2 separate regions of the Homo sapiens genome follow, and region 1 is linked to region 2. A link means that fine-mapping ties the variant in region 2 to the expression of a gene that starts in the linked region. Tissue or cell type: whole blood. Region 2 holds a variant in brackets; the other region holds the start of a gene. All regions are shown on one strand. Distances are between the middles of the regions.

Region 1 (8,106 bases), 350 kb after region 2:
CACACTGACTTTTTTTTTTTTTTTTTAGAGATGGAGTCTCCCTACATTGCCCATGATGATCTGAAACTCCTGGTTTCAAGCAGTCCTCCCACTTCGGCCTCCCGAAGTGCTGGGATTACAGGTGTGAGCCACTGTGCCCAGGAAAGATAATTTTCTATTAGATAAAATCATTGCAATCAAATGTTGATGGTATCAATTTTCCCACTAAATTCTACTTAACCATGGGATAGCATATTTGTACAGTGCTGTATGGTTTTTAAAGCATTGCCTTAAATACTTTATTGATTTTGAAACCAGTATGTGAGAAAGGCAAACAGTTGTGATGATTCTTATTAACTATGGTTAAATGTCCTACCCAAAGTCACAGAGTGAATAAGAGGTGGACATAGAACTGGGGAGACAGGGTTCATTCCACTCCATTCATTCAAGCATTCATTCACGTACTCATTCATCCAACTAATGGAGACTATGGCTCCAAAGATGAACAAGATCTAGCCTCTGCCCTCAAGAAGTCCACGGTTTAGTAAAGAAGCAGAAAGGAAATCACACACCAAGTAAAACATGAGCATGAAAAGTGTAGCAAAGGGATGTATGCAAGGCTTTCAGATGAGGTCAATTCTTAAATCTGGGTTTCAATGGAGAAAGGAATGGCTAGGGAATGAGGGCTAAGGGGAAAGACAAGTGTAGATCATCTAATTTTGTTCAAATACAAAAGTGTATGTGAGTCCTGGCAGAAGCTGAGAGTATGAGGTCAGCAGCAGCCAACTCCTGGCCTTGAATGCCTTACCCTGTGGGCCAAGTTAAGGACAGCCAAGGTGCTTAGGTCCAGAAATATGCTAATCTCCAAAAAGCTTTCTGGGCTGAGCTCGCCTCATATGTAATAAAGCACACTGGTGGCAACTTTCATCTCTTTTAATACTGAGATGTCTTGAAGCAAGAATGACTCAAGCCCCAGGTTTGAATGAGTAAATTGTTTGCTGTAGCCTATGTATGTATACACACATTTTCATACACCCACGTGGATACGGTTTATATCCATAATACTACACATAATATATGTATCCACATAGATAATACAAAACATACACACAACTCTATAAACCTCACATGCAGAGCCATCTGAATAACATGTATGTTTATACTGACCCCTTGAGACATGCTCTGATGGACACAGGTTACTCAGAGAGGTTACCTGTGCAGGACAACCATGTGTCCTAGGTGATTTCAGACAGTCGTTTGCCTGCAGAGTAGGCATTGAACCAGGGCTGGACAAGATGAATTCCAAAGGTGGCCTAGAGCTCCATGGTTTCATGTATCACAAGCTTACTTGCATGAAGTAGTTTCGCCATTCTCAATAAATAAAATTCCCTGACCCTGGTGAAATTATTCCTTTCTGCTATTCTTTTGTACTCAGGCAGAAAATGTATTATTGATTTCTGATTCCACCACAGAAAGTGTGACTTAGAGAAAAGAGCACTGAATGAGGAGTCAGGAAATCTAGATTATTTCCTCAAACCACGCTCCTCGCTGTCCCCTCCCCTTGTTACTGTGTGACCTTGAACAACTTACTTCACGCCTCTGGGCTTCAGTTTCCCAAGTGTTCAATGAAAGGAGTGGCTGAGTGTTCTACAATTCTCTTTCCAGCTCTGAATCTATAAAACAATTCCAGCCCATCCCTCAAGATTTAGTTTATCTCTGAGCTCTAAAAATCAGGGCTAAAACTGGATTCAAAGTACCTATTTTCTAACCAAAGAAGATCCTGCTTCACTCACTTTTAAACCATGCAAATCTTGCATAATTTAAATGATCAGTGCTGTCATTGGTTGCTCTGGTTTAAATTATGCATTGTTGCTATTTGGGGAAAATTTAGACTGGGTCCGGTCTGGAATCACTGGCTGAGAACAATAAGCCCCCAAAGTGAGAAGGATAAAGGCCTCTCTAGACAGGATCTGCTTTTAATGCTTTGAGCCCAGGGTTTACAAAAAGAGCATTGACTGTGTACATTAAAGAGCCACCGAAACAGCGAGGGACTGGTAAGTCTGCAGCAAATTCTCCCAGAAGCCACTGACCTTGGCTGCATTTCAGGGGTCAGGCATTCCCCAGGAGGGGCTCAGCAGGCAGACTTTACCAAGGGCTTAGGAACAAATGAGACATCTCATCTAGATGAGGCCACCTCTCCAAATGTGGCAAGGTGGAGATGATCTGCCCTCTGATTTGTGGAGATTACCTATGTGGCCTTTGGACCCACTCCAGCAGACACACCTCACCCACAAGACTGGTCAAAGACCCTGGCCCTCCAGGATATAACTGTCTCCACATCTGCATCTAAGTCTTCTAGCCAGCAGTTCCTGGTCCCCAAGCTAGCTGTTGCCCTCTCTGTTTCCACACCTCCCAGCAGGCAGAAAAACAGAAGCAGAGCCCTAAGCTGATAGCCCAGGCCACAAAGAGCAATTTCAGTGAATTGTGCAAAGATATATTTTCAAAATACAGATCACAAGAAAGCACATCCCAAGTGTGAACCGCAGTCGTCCGCCCAGTGGGCCCTCACCGGTTGCTCCCCTGCCTGCAGGCTCCGTGCTTGGTATCTCAGAAAACCTTCCCGAGGAAAAAGCCCATAAGGGACAAGTCCCGGCCCAACTTAAAATCACATCAGACTGCTTTCCAGTAGAGGAGCAAGGTCGAGATTCCGGCCCAGGGAAATCACCGCAAGCCCTGCGCATTGTTCAGACCCCTTCCCCCTTTGCCACTTCCCGCCCCCCACCCCGACCTCCGACCGATTCGCAGCACCCCACCCCCAGTCGGGGCCATCCATCCACCTGATTAACTCGCCGGCAGCAACTCCCAGCGTAGAAAGTAGGGCAAATGAACACACACAGTCGGTAAAGCAGGAAGCCACAGACCTGGCCAATGCACCCACCCTGTTACCAACCCCACCCCGCTGCGCAGGGGGCAGCCGGTTCTTGATGTGGCATTTCCACTCCAGGGAAATAGACAGCTTCCTGTAATAATGCATGAATGAGCTTTGGCTGCCCAACTATCAGAACAGCCCATTTCAAACGGCATCTCTGTTTCTTCTCAACTCCTTACTTGCCTTGCTGAAACCTCATCTCTTAGCCCAACAGATTAAGACGAAGAGAGAAAGACTTATTCAAAGAGATGTGGAGGAAAAGGTTTAATTAAGGAGACCAAAGAGAAAGTACCACTTTGATCACAAAGGTAGCACTTTAATATATCAGTGCAGATAGCGGCAATGTCAGAAGTACTAGGAATCCAGGTAAATGGCCCCAAGATTCAGCATCAATCTAACAATGTATTCCTCAGGAGGGCGTGTGAACTTCCATGCTTCATCCATCCTGGTGTCTCCCTGTAGAGAGCCACCATGAATTCCTTCTCATCCACCCTCCATACATCAAGTATATGCACTCGCTTTCTTTTTAATTTTATTTTTGGTTCGGGAGAGGAAGAAGCAGTCCTTAAATTGGTGTCCAATCCTTCTCAGACACCCGCTGCTGCCACCATCCCCACCCCTCACCCCCTTCCAGGCAGGCAGCATCTAATTAAAATGGCAAGAAAGCTCTGCCCCCTTCCCCAAAGGAGTGTGTTGGGATCGGGAGTTGGGGGTGGGGAAGCGTCGAAGCAGCACTTGGATTCCTGGTATTCTGATCTCAAAACAACAGCAAAATGGATTCTATATCAGTGATGTCTTAGTCAATACAATGAAACGGCGTCTGAGGTAATTCACGTGAAGGTAAACGCAAACCAGTGGGGCTGGGGGGAGGGAGGTGCTCTACAAAGGACTGGCCACAGACACGGGGAAAACACACACAGACACACACACACACACACTCGCACACACTCCAGGGAGTTCCGGTCTGATTGAGGAAAAGCAGAAAACACATCCCTTTCACCTGCTTAAGTTCAGCCATAAAACTGAAACGTTACAGCCACAAAGTCAGAAAGAACAGGCAGGGCTGAGTTAAAGCCATAAATAAAGGTGAGTGGCAGACTGGCATTTAAGGGAGCGCTGAGAGGGCGCCCGGGCGCGGGAGGTAGAAAAGGGGGAGGGGGAGGCAGTTGCCATCTACAAGACCAGCATAGCAATAACTGCCCCCTTGGAGCGGCAGGTTCGGCTTCGCGGGGACAGCCAGCCTCACAATGTCATCTTGCAGGTAGCTGGAAAACGTGAGGGGCCAGTGCCTTTATTCACGCTGGCATTCTTTTTGCAGAAGGGACAGTCGGGTCTCGCGCCTTGGCACCAGACAACTGCCCGGGGCGTGTACACACACACACACACACACACACACACGCACACACGCCTTTCATTTTAATGCTCTTACACCGGTATAAGATGAAACTGGCATAAGCTCTACGAGCCCTCGGGAGAGCCTAAGCCACGGCCAGAGGAAGACACGTACCGCACAGCCCCTGCCGTAGGGGCTCAGCCAGGAGCACCTCAGCAACCCCGAATCAAAACGGGAATCCAGGTTCCCTCCCCGACGCATTCTCCCGCTGCTGTCCCCCTGCCCCAGCCCCAGCCCCCAGTCCACGCACCGAGCCCATTCACCCTAACCCAAACCACTGGAAAGAAACCAGAAAACGTCCTGCTCACCCTCAGAGCCGAGAGATCTATTTCATCCAGGCTTCGAGCCGGGGAGTCGCTCGCCATGTCTACTTCTTCGCTGGAGAAATGGACCAAAACCACCCCGAAGCTTTTCCCTTGGAAATTCCACCTTGGTCTATTTCACTCGCGTCCTCATGCGGGTGTCGCGCCAGAGGCCCCGGGCCCAGCCTCCCCCGCCCACCCCAGCCCCACAGCGCCGGATCCCGATCCTCCGCGCGTCGGTCCGCCGGGTCCGGGAGCCCAGCCTGCGCGGATCTCCAAGCCCCGAGCAGCGGTGCGTGTGGGCTGAGCGCCCCGATCGGCTAAGGGCGCTGGGGCTGCGTGGGTGTATTTAAATGGGACATGCTTCTTTGCTTGTGCGTGGATGGCGGCTGCATTGGCTGTTATAATGAGACACATCAACTCCTCCACTCAGCAGGGGGAGGGTGGGGGTGGAGAACCACGCAGAACTGTCTATCACCGCTTCCTGGGAGGAGTGAAGGGGGAGTGGGGAGGCGGAGGAGGCGTGGTCTTGGACTGGGGAGAGGCCGCGCTTCCTGACCCGGTCCCTCTGCACCAGCGTGGAGGGGGGAGGGGCGCGCACCCTTTCCGCCCAGGCTTTTGCGGGCTCCTCGGGCCGAACCCGAAGGGGCTGTTCCTGAACCTTGACTTGTTATCATAGGGACCCAAGCTCTATTTTTGTGTGGCCAATTCGTGCACTGCAGCAAAATGGCCCTTCAGTCGCGTCTTGGGGTTTCTCCTCGGTTCAAATGCTCTCGCGCTGAGAAAAAGCCGGAGGAAAAAAAAGCGACACCCTCCCTCCCCCATTAATTATTTGTGGGGCCGGAGTAACGCGGGCTGGTGCAACCGGTGCATATAAGGACTTGTGTGCAAGGAAGGGGATCCGCCTCCAGGCGCGGAAAGAGTAGGGAAGAAGCGCACACGCACAGTGCACCCAGCTGGGCGCTTCGGCAGTTTGCAGCTGCGGCGGGGTCGGGTCCACCCGCGGTCCCCGGAATGCCGGACGGCTGATCCCGGGTGCTGGTCACTCGCCGATTCGGGGCTGGGAAGGTTTGCCAGAAGCGGGAAAGATGGGAGATCTGAGCGCTCTCTTGGCATCGCCACACCCAGGACTTGCTCGTGCCGCAATTCCCCACGGAAACAACCGAGTTGAAACGAGAAGCTTGCTCTCTGGGTGCAGTAGCTAGAAGGCTTCAGGTAACTCCAAAGCCAACACTGGGTGAGGCAACACACGCCGCCTCAGGACTCAGCATTTCTTTCAGGCTGCGTTTTCGTGGCAGACCTACCCAGATTGATGGAGAAAGTTTGGCTGGCGGATAAGAAGTAACGCGGAAGATGTGTACGTGAGAGCGATTTCACTTCACTCACTTTCTCATTTAAAGGTTGGATGTTTTACAGTGGTATACATGATTCTCCTTCTGTAATCAAGAGTGGGAAGTCGCTTCCCCCAATCCCCGCGCAGCCCTTCTTCTCCCGCCTTAGCCATGCAAAATACCTAGAAAGAAAACACTAAAACTGAACTTTTTTCCAAATACAGCAGTAGCTTTGAAAGCATTCTTTGCTCCTCTGTTAACAGCAGAATGTAATTCTGACCACTGCACTGATGGTTTCTTAATCATGCAGTATGAAGATCAGCTTCAAAATAAGTCTTATGAATGAATGAATGAAAGCCAGTGCAGTTAGTTCATCATGACTGCAGACATTAGAGGACTTTGAAACAACCTTTGGTGTACATTGTACTGTTTTTGTTACTGATATTGTATGTATTCATATGCATTGTGGATCATGCACCATGAAACTTGAAAATTGTTCCAACATCTCAATGGCCACAACAGTTTGGTAGCTTTTGCCTGTAAACGTTGTATGTAAACATTTGAACGTGTTATACTAAATTACTAAACTCATTTTTTACTAAAATCATCTGGTTCGACATAGTAAGTAACGTGCAGTAAGCCACCACGTCGAAATGAAAAAAAAAAAACAGATTATTTCCCATCATTGTCTTTGTTTTTTTCTCTTCTGTGTTCCTGTTTTTTTACCGTTCATCTAGACAACAGGTTAATGTATTGTCTCAGGGTTGAAAGAAGATAATTTAAGATCAAGTATTAAGATCTATAAACAACTATTTTTTTAAAACTGCAAACATAAGGAAATATGAGTTAAATATTTTTTCCATGGAAAGCCTTCGTTTTATACTCATGATTATATTTGAAACATCACAAACAGATCAACTTTTTTGACATTAGTGAGCTGTTTGGGCCACGAGGGTGCCAAGTTGGCATTCAGATTTAGTTTAGTTTTAGATGAGAAAGTTATAGATGCAGTATGATGCCAGGTGCTAAATGGAGGAGGGCTTCCTAAGAGCCTGAGAAGTTGATGAGACAGCCAGGGGAAGGCAGGGGTGTGGGCTGCAGGAAATACCATAAAAGGAGAGATTGCAGTATCAAAGGGACCTCCAACTGGTAAAGGAAGGTGAGAAGGAGGAACTTGAACTTTTTCCTTTTGGTCAAGTGTGTATCAAATTTCAGCTATTCCAGTATAAATTTCCTAATTTTTTCCTATGTCTCTGTATTGCCTGTACTATTTTACCACTTACTTAACATTTTTCTTTAAATCAACACTTTTTTCTTACACTTAATATAAAAGAAAACATAAATCACTACTCTAAATGGAAAGCCAACAACACTTGCTTTGAAAAAAAAAGGGGGGAGGAAACCATTAAAATAAATATAATGGAAAATAAAGAAGTATTATTAAATTCTAGCTAGCCATCAATTCCTGCTCTGGGCTTCTAGCCTAAGGCCTACTCTTAGTTTGTTAAAAGAGAGAATAGCAAATACCAGGAAAAACATTCAAGACTTGAGATTTTTTTCTTGATGTAATCTGAAGGATTAAGAGAACTGACACCATTTATGTGCAGTTTGAAAACCTGCCGAATAATACACTATGCTGTTTACATATGTATAAATATGTAGTAAACTATATAAAGCATGGATACAGGCAGTAAGGATACAGATTAACTTCAGGATAATGAGAAAAGAGGAAGAGGAAAAGGAGACTCCAACAATGATACCTAATTTTTTTGCTAAAGATTTCTGCCAGGCACGGTGGTGGCTCACACCTGTGATGCCAACATTTTGGGAGGACAGGTTGGGAGGATAGTTTGAGTCCAGGAGTTCGAGACCCGCCTGGGCAACTTGGTAGAACCCCATCTCTACAAAAAATACAAAAATTAGGTGGGCATAGTGGTACACCCCTGCAATCCCAGCTACTAGGGTGGCTGAGGTGGAAGAATTGCTTGAGTCCGGGAGGTTGAGGCTGCAGCAAGCCAAGATAAGCCACTGCACTCCAGCCTGGGCGACAGAGGGAGACCCTCTTTATAAAAATGAATAGAAAATTTGAATAATAAGTAATACTATGCTGCAGATATTTTTCTAAGCATTTGTTCTATCTGAATGTTTGTGTCTCCCAAAATTTATGTGTTG
Region 2 (8,106 bases):
GCAAAGTTATAGGAAATAAACACAATCTAATATTAACACCATTGGGTTCAATTCTATTTTCATATATTTTATTCTTTGACAATACAAATTTTCTCCATATAATGAGCCTTCTTGGTAATTTATTACTTGGCTGTCACAAGCCTGGAGCTAAAAAGTATTTAAAAAACAAAATAAGTGCTATTTAGCATGAAAATATTTGAGAATATATAGCTAAAAAAGAAATATGGCAAGATGGTAAGATTTTTTGACTACAGAGTAAATGTGAAGATAGCTACGAGGCTTAACAGTTTTTAGAATCAACTAGATATAATTTTTCATTCAACAAAGGTTAACTATTATGCACATCTTGACTAAAAAGGCGCTCTTTTAGGTCCCTTTTTAGAAACAATATAGTTTATTCAAATAAATATTAGTTCAATTTTTGAACTATTGTTTAAAAATTTTTAGCTTTTTTTTCTCTTTGTATTAAACTATTTTCTTTTTAGGAACTCTAAAGATATGACATTGGGCAAGCCACTTAGTTTCAATATCCTCATCTGAGGGAAAAGGGGGTTGAACCCCTAGTTATTGTTCACCTTCCATCCAATCTAAATTGATGTGCTTTGAAATTTTTGATGCCCACATACTAATAAAAAACAGCGGTAAAAACAGTGTTTTCTTACGTGTATAATCTTTGTGTCACATATTTAATTGTGCCAACAGAGAAAACCCATTTATTTTCAAAGACTATATTCAAAGACTATATTAAATAGACTATGCTGCAAAATCTCATATTCCATTAGAAAGCAATGTCACATTAATGTACACTCCCCCAAATTAATTTTTATAAAAAGTTAAATCATTAGCAATAACAAGCGACAATATTTCAAAAGTGATTTTCAGATTTTTCATTTCAATCCCAGTTATCTAAATTGCAAAAACAGTCGTTGAGAGGGAAGCCCTACCAAAACCTATGAATGGAGAAGGGAGAAAGGTGTAGTTCAAAGTTTCTCAATTATGGCCCTGTTGACATTTTGGGCCAGATAATTCTTTATTGTAGGGAGTTCTCTGTGCACCACGGGATGTTTGGCAGCAGCACCCCTCTGCTCTATCCACAAGATGCCAGTACCACTGCCTGCTACTCTGAAGTGGTGACAACCAAAACTGTCTCCAGATTTTGCCAAATGTCTCCTAAGGGAAGAGGAGTGGAGGAATCAGCCGTGGTTGAGAGCCACTGGGTTAGGTAGAACCGCTTTATTTTAGTGGTTTGGATCAGTGATACTCAAGAGATCAGGATAGTCACCTGGAGGGCTTTTCCAACCATACATGGCTCCAGAGATTTTAGTATGCAGCTCACACCCCCTCAATTATTTGTAATTACGTATACCTCCATTGCCCCCTCTCATCTCTGTCCAGTGTGGTGCAGTACACCAAAAAAAAGTAGAGCAATTTTTCAAAGCCTAAAATATTCTGGGTTAATCAGATGAAATCTGTGAGAGCCTTTTCCTTAATGACGGCCCCTCCAAGCCAATTTCTGAACTCATGTAATTCCTCTTGAGTTCTGCACATGCACAGCCATTTTATTGGCAACTGTAGCACCAGAACTTCACTGTCTTTCTTTACCTGTTCTGGGAGAAAACTGACAAAAGTTGTGATAATCCCTGCCCTTCTCACTATTATGAGAGAGAGGGGCAAGCAAGGCCACGGCACAGAGCAATTAAAAACACACTCTCCTCTTCCCTTTCTATAAATGCCATCCACACACCGCAAACATGCGGAGTCTCATTCTTTTATAAGCAACAATCCTTCAACTATGATCATAACTGTCTCGTCACTCTGGGTGGTGAGGTGGCCATAAGTCTGAAAAAGTGAGGCTCTTCGGTGAAGACCAGATACATGGAAACATGCTTCTCCTACCTGCCAAAATAGCTCCATGCCTCTGGCCCAAACCTTAATCAAACCCTTGGCTTTCTGCAGCAATGTTACACATAAAATGCTTTCACACACATTACCTTAAATGATCCTAAACAATCTTGTAAGTGGGATGGGGAGGTGTTTTTATTCTCATTTTATGGATGAGGAAACTCTGGCCCAGTGAGGTTATGAGACTAGTCTCAGCCAGTTATTTACTGGGGGAGCCAAGATTTGAATGCAGCTTGCTGACCTCAAAGCCAGTGCTTTTTCCATTAAATTTCACAAAAGTAGTGCTCAGCAGAGCTACAGCTTTAAAGCCATGATGGTAGTCTTTAGATTCCATGCATTTAGGACTCTTTGCAAGGCCTGGATCTTAAAAAAACAAATTCTACTCTGCTGTATTCATGCAGGTCTGACAAATAGCAGTAAGGCAGTCATCCTTCTTAGCAAGCTACCTACAACTGACAAAGCCATATATTTTTCTAATGGAAAACGTCTCCACAGACAAGGAAATAAAGTCACTTAACTTTCCAGGATTCATTAACTAAAGCTGATGTTGCTTCTGATGCTGTTGTTAATGTCCCACAAAATTAATCTAACAATACCTACTAACTCCTTGTTCACAAATCACACACTCTAAATTTGGAGTGTCCTAGAATGATGTCTCTTTTCTTGTTAGTAAAACTGCTGAGAGCCATTCCCTAGCAAGGCTGGCAAGTACAGGTTTGCTATTGGAAGATACTGGAAGGAGAAACTGCCATTAATAAAGCATGAATACTTGTCATTAGCCAGACTGGAACATTGGAAAAGTGACATTTTAGCTTAGAAGGAAGGTCTCTGAAGCTATATGGGTAGGTTTGAGGGTCTTAAAGTTGGCTTCCATTTGAAGGGGCACTCCTCCCAGCAGATTGCTACAAATCTCCTCCCAGCTGATTGCTCCCATTGGCCACCTTTCTGAATGTCAACATTAGGAAATAAGTTTAATATTTACATTTTGTGAAAGCATGACCAAGAAAAGGTAATACTAACCTCATCTATAGCTTTTTTGTAGCTCTGAAATGAGAGGAACCCAATCCAGAAGAATCCACAGAAGGAGGAAAAGCCAGCAGAAAGGCAGCAGATTAGACACAAAATTGTAATTGTTAGTACGCAACTGATAAATACAAAAGGGCGAAGAGAATGTCAATCCAGAATGATGCAAATCCCTTCATTATTACTCTCGGTATACGTCGTTACTTTAAGATGTTAAAAAAGAGTAAACCAAAAAGCTTCACGTTCATTTTACAGAAAAGATTCTCAAGAGATTTAAATAGAAAAAATGGATAGTAATTCATCCCAAATTAATTTTCAACTTTCAAATTTTAGCCTCCATACTCCTCTTTAAGGCTACCTGGGGGTCTATCATGTTACAGCAGTGAAGCTGGATGCTAAGTTGTTACGACGCCTGTTGGACCCTGCTTAAAAAGTTTGGTCCAGAAAATATAGTCCTGGAGGCATGAAAAATAGCAGAAAAACTGTAATATTAATTCATGTGGAAAATAATATGGGGAAAGAGTAGAAGAGATTAGAGAAGTTCATAGAAAGTACCCAAGTCTCTTTAACTGCTACTTTCAACATCTTTTTGCCAAAGTTGCTGAGTAGAAATTATGGAATGATAGGAGTTGTTTCTCTTCCTGTTTTATAGTTAAAGGACTGCTAATGATCAGCAAATAGCCAAAGGCAGAGGAGTCAATCCAAGATCTCTTCGGTTCTTTCCTAATCAGGTATGACTTTCTTCGGGATGTTTCTAGCATCCGTTCTTACTAATCTCAACAATTTTTGTTTGCATCATGAGTGTATCCCCAACTACTTAATCCTGTGGGTTCTCTGGTAAATTAAGAGTTCAAAACTCTTGGAGAGAAAAGCACTCACAGCTGGTCGACTGGGCCGGGTAATGTCCCTGGATTCTTCTGGTTTCACCTTCGCAGGCTCATGGGG[G/A]AGCACAGGTGATCCTTCTGACTTACTGTTGGCTAGAGGAAAAAAACAGAGGACCAAGAAAGAGATGGCCATCAAAAAGTGCTGGCTCAAGTTCTGAATGAATTATCTGTGATGTGTCATCACATTGAGATTACTCAGTGGACACGTCATTCACCTGGGCAAATCCTCAAGAAACATCCATGAAAAATATAATGTTCAGGCAAACACATTTAGGCTTGTGACCTGGAAATCACTAGTAACAATTAAAAAAAAAAGAAATGTAGCAAGTACTATCACCACTAGAGCACTTCTTATGTGTCAGGCATAGTGCTAAATGCTTTCCATGTCAATTATCTCATTTAATCCTCACTCCAACCCAATGATATGGCACTATTCTCCTATTTTACAGAACACAGATTTACAAAGATGACACAACTGTCCGGAGGTCACACTGAAATTATAGACAGAGCTGGAGTTCTGATTTCTGAAAGTCCTATTCTCAGTCACTATGCTAAATGAGCCTCTAAGGTTCTATGCTTGTTTTCTTCTTTTATCATTTGTCCAATCAGGATAGGTTATTTTGTTGAAATTTTGTGAGGGAAAAAAAATTTATTTTATTTGGTGGAACGGTTTTTAATTGGAGATGGGAGTGGTCTCAGCCCTTTAAAAATAAAAGAATGAGGTGAGGGCAAGAAGGGGGTTGTTATAGGAGAAGGGCCCTAGGCTGGAGGTACAGAGCAAGGTCAAGGGGACCCTGACAGCTGCAGAGTGAATAGCATCTTTGCAGTCTATGAGCTTACAGATAGAGAAGATGCAATTTAGGGTAGGAGAGGTGGTTTTTATTTCTTAAAAAGTAGTCTTTCTTGGACAGGGACATACCAGGGATACAACAGCCCTTTTAATCCGGAAGAACGAGGGGCTGAAGGAAATAAAAAGTAAGCCTGAACCAGACCAGAGAATTAAAATGGTATGCGTTTAAGTTTGGTTTATTTAAATATTTGCTCTAAGAATATGAAGTTGCCTATAAATAGAAAAAAGATAACAGAATGGCTGTTTTCTTTCTTTAGGTGTTTTAGAGATGGGGCTCTGTCACCTAGGCTGGAGCGCAGTGGGGCCATCATAGCTCACTGCAGCCTTGAACTCCTGAGCTTAAGCAATTCTTCTACCTCGGCCTTCCGGGTACCTAGGACTACAGGCGTAAGCCACTACATCTGGTAGTTTTCTAAATTAAGGAAATTTATATTTCGATCAAGGCAACAAAGACATACAGTAGATACTTCTGAGATGTGCCACTAATCAGAAGAATGCATATAGAGGCAGCTGTTGGCTAGTCCATATCCCAATCCAGAGACGTGAACATCAATCACATGTTAGATATCAAGCTTTTTAAAATGGAAATAGAGTGATTTATTTAAAACCCTGAAAGGGTGTTAGGAGATAAACTAAGGGTATTAGGAGGTGGTATGTAATAAAGAGTCTAAGAAAGAAAAAAGAACTGAAGGTTCTCATGAGGCTTTCATCAGACAGAGAAACTTATAAGTATGTTAATATTTGTCAAATTGCAATTAAAGTACTGGTCTTCATCACTTAGAAGCAAAATTATCTTCTGAAGAAGTTGATTCAGAAGGAGTGAATTTTAACTAGCTAGAAACAATGTATTATTATGTATCAGCACCTGGAAATAATAATGTTTTTCATAGGCCTCCCCATTACTGGAAACTAAACAATGATGAATAATTTGAATTAAATATTTAGAGAGGCTAATTTTTACTTAATAGGAATAACCAGAGGAGTCAACAATTTTTTTTTTTTTTGATGGAGTTTCATTCTTGTTGCCAAGGCTGGAGTACAATGGCGTGATCTTGGCTCACCACAACCTCTGCCTCCTGGGTTCAAGCGATTCTCCTGCCTCAGCCTCCCGAGTAGCTGGGATTACAGGCATGCACCACCACGCCAGGCTAATTTTTTGTATTTTTAGTAGCGATGGGGTTTCTCCATGTTAGTCAGGCTGATCTTGGAACTCCCGACCTTAGGTGATCTGCCTGCCTTGGCCTCCCTAAGTGCTGGGATTACAGGCGTGAGCCACCACACTCGGCCTAAATATGCTTTTTAAGTCAAAGATTTTATTCCTTCCTTCAAGTGTATTCTACATTAGTCTTTACTGAATTTCATTTTGAGAAATACATGGTATTCTGAACTGTGTATATGAACTATGTTCAGAATACTAAACAGGACAATTGGTGCAATGCGTTCAGGACATTTGTGGGTACATGAAACTCTAAAAACCGGCAATCAAACAGAAACAGAAATTCAGGTGACTGGTAAGTGACTGTATTTTCAAATAAGACTGATATTTGGTGATCTCCCTGGAAAACACTGGTATCTGAGATTAGAAAGGATTTTGTCCATACTGATGGCACACACACAATTAGGGACAGTGGCCCACTCCCGAGGAGACTGGGGTTGAGAGCAGTTGACAGGCTCTTCAGGATCACACAGTGGTGGCCATGCCTGGACTAGAGTCAGGAAGTAACTAACCTTTTTCCCTGTCCACAGCTTTCCTCCCAGGCAGTATTGCCAGGTAAAGGTAAGAGAAAGTTTTACCTCGAACTCTGGTGCGTTCACTGGATCCTGCTTGTGATCCAGGCTGGGAGCCTCCTTGGGAGCTGGGCTGGGAGCTAGGGGTGCTGGAGCTGGAGGAACTGCCACTGCTGGTCCTCTGCAAGGGGCTCTCCAAGATGGGCTCAGTTCTCCGGAGATCAGGGTTGCTGTGTGAGTGACAGAGCACACTGGTTACACTCTCCAGACCTTGCCAGTTTTGCAGATCACATATCTGATAAGGTTTAATACCCAAAATATGTAAGGAACTCAAAACAGCTCAATAGCAAGAAAACGAATAACCCAATTAAAAATGGGGAAAGGACCTGAATAGACATTTCTTAAAAGGAGACATGCAGATAGCCAATAGGAATATGAAAAAAATGATCAGCATCACTAATCATCAGGGAAATGCAAATTAAAACCACAATGAGCCAGGCACAGTGGCTGTCACCTATAACCCCAGCACTTTGGAAGGCTCAGGTGGGAGGATCACTTGAGGCCAGGAGTTCAAGACCAGCCTGGGCAACATAGTGAGATCCCATCTCCACAAAAAAATTAGCTGGGCATAGTGGCATGTGCCTGTCCTCCCACTTACATGAGAGGCTGAGGTGGGAGGGTCACTTGACCCCAGGAGGTCAAGGCTTCAGTGAGCCATGATCACGCCACTGCACTCCAGCCTGGGCAACAGAGTGAGACCATGTCTCAAAAAATAAAAACATAAATTTAAAAACCCCACCAAACCACAATGAGATATGACCTCATACCTATTAGAATGGCTGTTTTCAAAAGACAAAAGATAATGAGTGTTGGTGAGGATGCAGAGAAGAGGGAACCCTTGTACCCTGTTGGTGAGAATGTAAAATAGTACAGCCAGTACGGAAAACAGTATGAAGGTTCCGCAAAAGACTAAAAATAGAATTATCATAGGATCCAGAGATTCCACTTCTGGATATATATCCAAAGGAAATGAAATCAGTACATTGAAGAGGTAGCTGTACTCCCATGCTCAGTGCAGCACTATTCACAGTAGCCACAATATGGAATCAACCTAAGTGTGTGTCCACTGAAGAATGAATGGATAAAGAAAATGTGATATATCTCTCTCTCAAAAAGACAAATACTACATGATCTCACTTATAGGTGGAATCTACAAATACCGAACTCATAGAAACAGAGAGTAGAATGATAGTTGCCAGGGGATCTAGGAAGGAGAGAGAATGGGAAGATGTTGGTCAAAGGTTACAGTTTCACTTGGACAGCATGAGTAACTTTTGGAAATCTACTGTACACCATGGTGAGTACAGATCATAACGAGGTATACTTGAAAATTGCGAAGATAGTAGATCTTAAATGTCATCAGAAAAAAATGATAACTATGTGAGGTGATGGATATATTGATTAACTTGATTTTAGTAATCATTTCACAGTGTATACATATATCAAAACATCATGTTATACACTGTAAATAGATATACTTTTTATTTGTCAATCATACCTCAGTAAAGCTAGGGGGGACAAAATCTTGCCATTGGTAGACACAAGCATAGTCCCGTCCCCAGTGCAAGGAAGTAAAAAGAGCACTTACAAGACCTTGAGAGGAAGGGGTCAACAGAAGATGACAGTCATGCCTTCCTCTGTAGAGTTCCTGACCAGCTA

Evidence for each region. PIP is the estimated chance that this variant, and not a neighbour inherited with it, causes the effect.
Region 1: TNIK starts here. The variant in region 2 is fine-mapped to the expression of TNIK in whole blood (INTERVAL, PIP above 0.99).

What each region holds. Positions count from the first base shown.
Region 1 is chr3:171,455,398-171,463,503 of GRCh38, forward strand. TNIK (TRAF2 and NCK interacting kinase) reads right to left here and starts at 5,008. Exons shown (of 33, transcript NM_015028.4): 1 at 4,610-5,008. The coding sequence starts at 4,666. LOC124906303 (a long non-coding RNA gene) reads right to left here and starts at 2,774. Exons shown (of 2, transcript XR_007096168.1): 1 at 2,549-2,774. LOC102724479 (a long non-coding RNA gene) reads left to right here and starts at 3,821. Exons shown (of 3, transcript NR_189068.1): 1 at 3,821-3,994. RefSeq lists a silencer at 4,638-4,697 and an enhancer at 5,709-6,209.
Region 2 is chr3:171,104,261-171,112,366 of GRCh38, forward strand. TNIK (TRAF2 and NCK interacting kinase) reads right to left here. Exons shown (of 33, transcript NM_015028.4): 19 at 6,454-6,617; 20 at 3,805-3,902; 21 at 2,923-2,946. It overlaps MIR569 (microRNA 569), which reads right to left and starts at 2,499; the gene lies at 2,404-2,499. LOC105374216 (a long non-coding RNA gene) reads left to right here. Exons shown (of 5, transcript XR_007096163.1): 2 at 2,934-3,115; 3 at 3,578-3,656. The variant G/A (reference allele first, on the strand shown) is at 3,871.